2 separate regions of the Homo sapiens genome follow, and region 1 is linked to region 2. Evidence: fine-mapped expression QTL. A gene starts in region 2. The other region holds a variant in brackets. All regions are shown on one strand. Distances are between the middles of the regions. Region 1 has its middle 67 kb from the start of NALF2. Region 2 holds the start of NALF2 (NALCN channel auxiliary factor 2).

Region 1 (2,800 bases), 68 kb after region 2:
ACAACACTACTCAAAGAAATCAGAGAAGACACAGACAAATGGAAAAATATCCCATGCTCATGGATTGGAAGAATATCATTAAATGGCTATACTGCCCAAAGCAATTTACAGATTCAATGTTATTCCTATCAAATTACCAATAACATTTTTTACAGAACTAGAAAAAATTATTTTAGAATTTATATGGAACCAAGAAATAGACCGAATAGCCAAGGCAATGCTAAGCAAAAAGAACAAAATAGGAGGAAATACATTACCTGACTTCAAACTATACTACAAGGCCACAGTGACCAAAATAGTATGGTACTGGTACTAAAACAGGCACATGGAACAATGGGATAGAATAGAGGGTCCAGAAATAAGGCTGCACATCTATGACCATCTGATCTTTGACAAAGCTGACAAAAACAAGCAAGGGAGAAAAGACTTCCTATTCAATAAATGGTGCTGGGATAACTGGCTAGTCATATGCAGAAGATTGAGGATGGACCCCTTCCTTACACCATACACAAACTCAACTCAAGATGGATTGAAGACTTAAATGTAAAATCCAAAACTATAAAAACCCTGGAAGACAACCTAGGCTGTGCCATCCTGGACCTAGGAATGGGCAAAGATTTCATGACCAAGACACCAAAAACAATTGCCACAAAAGCAAAAATTGACAAATGGGATCTAATTAAACTTATGAGCTTCTGCAGAGCAAAATAAACTATCAACAGAGTAAACAGACAACCTACAGAATGGAAGAAAATATTTGCAAACTATGGATCTGACAAAGGTCTAATATCCAGCATTTATATGGTGTTTAAACAAACTTACAAGAGAAAAACAAAAAACCCCATTTAAAAAGTGGGCAAAGGCCATGAACAGACACTTCTCAAAAGACAACATACACATAGCCAATAAGCATATGAAAAAAAAAGCCCAATATCACTGATCATTAGAGAAATGCAAATCAAAACCACAATGAGATACCATCTTACAACAGTCAGAATTGCTATTATTAAAGAATCAAAAATAACAGATGCTGATGAGGTTGCGGAGAAAAGGGAACCCTTATACACTGTTGGTGGGAGTGTAAATTAGTTTAAACATTGTGGAAAGCACTATGGAAATTCCTCAAAGAGCTAAAATCAAAACTACCATTTGACCCAGCAATCCCATTACTGGGTATGTACTCAGAGGAATATAAAGCAATCTACCATTAAGACACATGCATGCAAATGTTCATTGCAGCACTGTTCACAATAGCAAAGACATGGAATCAACCTAAATGTCCATCAATGACTGACTGGATAAAGAAAATGTGGTACATATACACCATGGAATATTATGCAGCCATAAAAAAGAATGAGATAATGTCTTTTGTGGTAACATGGATGAAGCTGGAAGCTATCATCCTTAGCAAACTAACATAGGAAAAGAAAAACAAATACTGCATTTTCTCACTTATAAGTGGGAGCTAAATGATAAGTACTTATGAACACAAAGAAGGAAACAACAGACAGTGAGATCTACTTGAGGGGGGTGGGTAGGCTGGGGGAGAGGAGCAGTAAAGGTAACTATTGGGTACTGAGCTTAATACCTGGGTGGTGTAATATATACAA[C/T]GAACCCCCATGACACATGTTTATGTGTATAACAAACCTTCATATGTACTCTCAAACCTAAAATAAAAAAGTTTAAGCCAAAAAATAATAAAATAAAAATTAAATTCCAAATGTAAAACAAACAAAAATATACAAAATACATAAGAACGCCCTACAGCTCAATTAAAAAAAACCGGTTTAAAAATGGGCAAAGGACTTGAATAGACATTTCTCCAAAGAAGATATACAGATGGACATCCGGTATATGGAAAGATGTTCAACATCACTAATCATCAGGGAAATGCACATCAAAATCACAATGAGATACAGTCTCACATCAGTTAGGATGGCTATTATCAAAAAGCAAAAGATCCTCCTTGTACCTCTGGTAGAAGGAGGAGCTGGTACCACTCCTTATGAAACTATTCCAATCAATAGAAAAAGAGGGAATCCTCCCTAACTCATTTTATGAGGCCAGCATCATCCTGATACCAAAGCCTGACAGAGACACAACAAAAAAAGAGAATTTTAGACCAATATCCCTGATGAACATTGATGCGAAAATCCTCAATAAAATACTGGCAAACTGAATCCAGCAGCACATCAAAAAGCTTATCCACCATGATCAAGTGGGCTTCATCCCTGGGATGCAAGGTTGGTTCAACATACAAAAATCAATAAACACAATCCAGCATATAAACAGAACCAAAGACAAAAACCACATGATTATCTCAATAGATGCAGAAAAGGCCTTTGACAAAATTCAACAACCTTCATGCTAAAAAATCTCAATAAATTAGGTATTGATGGGATGTATCTCAAAATAATAAGAGCTATTCATGACAAACCCACAGCCAATATCATACTGAATGGGCAAACCTGGAAACATTCCCTTTGAAAACTGGCACAAGACAGGGATGCCCTCTCTCACCACTCCTATTCAACATAGTGTTTTAAGTTCTGGCCAGGGCAATCAGGCAGGAGAAAGAAATAAAGCGTATTCAATTAGCAAAAGAGGAAGTCAAATTGTCCCTGTTTGCAGATGACATGATTGTATATTTAGAAAACCCCATCGTCTCAGCCCCAAATCTCCTTAAGCTGGTAAGCAACTTCAGCAAAGTCTCAGGATACAAAATCGATGTGCAAAAATCACAAGCATTCTTATACACCAATAACAGATAAAGAGAGAGTCAAATCATGAGTGAACTCCC
Region 2 (2,800 bases):
ATGCCCAGCAGCAAGTCCCAGACCGTGTAGGTGTCGCAAAAGGAGAGAGTGAAGTTCCGAAAGTGGCCTTTGAGCAAGTTTTTTTTGGCGGAGGGGAACTCGGCCGGGGCACGGGAAAGGGAGTCAGGGGGCCGCAGAGGGGGGGCCGGAGTAGTCGGTTCGAAAAGTCTCTGCAAAGATTGCAATTTGGTGCAAGCTGCGTCCAGCCCCGTGGGCTCTGGGACGCCGCCGCAGACCGGCCGAGAGCCGGCGGCGGGGGCGGCTTTGGTCAGGTTGCTGTATCTGGGGCCGCAGGTGCCTGGGGGCGCGCTGGGCTCGCCGGGCGGCGGCGGCGGCAGCGGCAGCACCGCGCGAGGAGGCACCGGCTGCCGCTCCCGGCCGGCCCCCCATGGGGGCCGCATGGCGCTGCTCAGCTCCCTGGCCCGGGGCCGGGCCCCCGCGCACAGCCACAGATGGTCAGCGAGCAGCACGGTGAAGAAGAGCAGGGACGCCAGGGACAGTCGCCATCGCTGCGCCCGCTCGGAGTCGGCGCAAGGTTTGTCGCTCGGCCTGGGAGCCCAGCAGCAGCAGCAGCAGCAGATAGTCAGCGCGGCGGCGTCTTTCCCGGGCCACATCCAAGCGCCCCTGAACATATTTCAGGGGGGTCCGGGCTGGAGGGAACAGGCAGGCGCGAGGCCAGACGGCCGTCTGGGGCGGGCGGGCTGCGCGCCGCTCTGCGCTCCTCGGCGCCGTCCAGGCTCTACCTCGGGGGCTGCATGGTGAGGCAGGCCGGCCGGCGCGATGCCCCGCTCAGGCCGGAGTCGCGGGGCGCTCTGGTGCCGTCTCCGCGCCGCTCCCGCGCTCCGTCGCTCTCAGCCCGGGCGCCGCCGCCCGGCCCGCTAGGCGCTGCCCGGCGTCCCGGCTGGGGGCGGTGCGGGGCACTGGGGCGGTGGCGGCTGCGGCGGCGGCGCCGCACTCCTCATAGTGTCGGGCCCCTCAGCTGCCCTCGGCTCCGTGCCACTTCACTCCGCGCCGGCGGCCGCCCGGCTCGCACTCCAAACCGGCCGTCTCGGTTCGGCGCAGCTCTGCGCCCCTCAGCGCCGCCGTGCGGGCCCCGCCGCCGCGCTCCGCTCCGCTCCCCTCGCCCCGCGCCGCTCCGCTCCCGCCCGTCCGCCCGCTGCCCGCTCCACGCCGCTCCCTGCCTCGCTCGCGCCCTCCTAGGCCGGCCGGCCGGTCCGTTGCCGGGCCCTTCGGGCTTCGTTCGCGCTCCGGGTGTTCGCCGGGGCCAGTCCCTGGCGGGCTCCGCTCTGGCTCCGCACCCGCTGCTCCTGGAGTTCCGGCTCGGGCGGGCCACCTGGCTCCCGGCAGCGCCACAGGCGCCGGACGCAGACACCGGGCTTTACTTAGTGCGCCTCTCGCTTCCGCCTCTCGTTCGCACCGCTGTGGCTGCAGCCCAGCGGCACGGCCCCGTGGCTCCCGCTGGCCATGCACCCTCAGTCTGTCGCCATCTTCCGCTGTGCGGAGAACACCTTGAGAGCCCCTGTGCAAGTGTGTTTGGCGGGGAGCAGGGCGGAGAAAGAGGCACGGAGAGGAGGAGGGAGCGGGACTGGTGCCCCGACTGCGCCTGCGCCTCAGGACTCCCCCCACCCCACCCCGCCCCAGCCCCCGCCGGCCGCAGCCGGTGCTGTTTGGGGATGTTTCCAGTCCACCCCCAACTCCATTCACTTCAGCGCCTCCGTTCATCCGCCCGCTGCCCGCGTGCACATGCCACACGCTGAGTCCCAGGCCTCGGCGCTCCCCCTCCCCCACTAACCCGGGCGCCCGCCTTCCTCTCCATGGCCGTCCCTCACTCCCCCGAGGGCTAGGGGACTTCTGAGGGTGATTCTTGGAGGCAAGGAGCAGCAGGCATCTCGTAGCTGCTTGCTGCCTCTCTGGGTCGCCTCCGCCGTCCCCGTGACTGGAAGACGCTCGAGCCGGCTGCGGATCGGACCAGTCCAGTGTCCCTAACTCCACCTTCGCCCTCACCGTCCTGCCCGAGGACAAGGCGGCCCTTGGTGCTGAAGGACAGCTCCCAGCTTAGCTGCTGAGGAAGACTGAGTTTGGAGAGCGTCCTGGAGGGGGCAAGGCGGTGGGCTAAGATAGTAGTGGTGGGGTGTCGGTGTTTGCCCTTAGGAATATTTCCAGCAGCCTCCACCCCCCACCCGCCCGCCCCCCACCCAAGCACCAGCCCCCGTCCTAGCTTTTTGGCTCCCCCTACAGGCTGCTGAGAATAGCTGACTGAGAGTTAGAGAAGCTGCGCCGCCCGGATGGAACCATGTGCTTGGGCCCTCACAGAGTCACATGGCACTAGGAATTCGGACGTACAAACATCCTGACGCGCCACTAACCTTGTTTGGACTCCACTGACCCTGTGGTCTGCTTGCCTTCCTCACTCCCAGTAACTCACATTGTAATTTTTTGTCAACCGTTGCCGGCAAGCATTTGTTAATGTTAAGAATAACAATAAAGAAAATAGCCTTAATTGAGCGCGTACTATGTGCTAGGTACTGCTCTATACATTTTGCATGCATTCGTCATCCAATCTTCACAACAGTGTTATGAGATAGGTACTACTGTTATCTTCATTTACATACAAAGAAGCTGAGGTTTAGTGTGGTTGTTGCCTAAAGTAACCAGAGCAGCTAAAAAAGAAACTCAGTCTGACTCTAGAATTCTCTTAACACTCCAGTAAGGCCCTGGAAAGATGAAAGAGCCAAGGCATTCCTTCCTTAAAGGAAATTATAGTCTATATAAGGAAACAAGACATGTATATTGGCTAGTG

The links. PIP is the estimated chance that this variant, and not a neighbour inherited with it, causes the effect. A credible set is the group of variants that fine-mapping cannot tell apart.
Region 1: its variant is the best candidate, but not a certain one, in a credible set for the expression of NALF2 in tibial nerve (GTEx, PIP 0.63).

What each region holds. Positions count from the first base shown.
Region 1 is chrX:69,435,494-69,438,293 of GRCh38, reverse strand. No RefSeq gene overlaps it. Among named protein-coding and RNA genes, the nearest start is that of NALF2, 67 kb to the left of the region's middle. The variant C/T (reference allele first, on the strand shown) is at 1,611.
Region 2 is chrX:69,503,115-69,505,914 of GRCh38, reverse strand. NALF2 (NALCN channel auxiliary factor 2) reads right to left here and starts at 1,589. Exons shown (of 3, transcript NM_015686.3): 1 at 1-1,589. The coding sequence starts at 632. RefSeq lists a silencer at 463-636.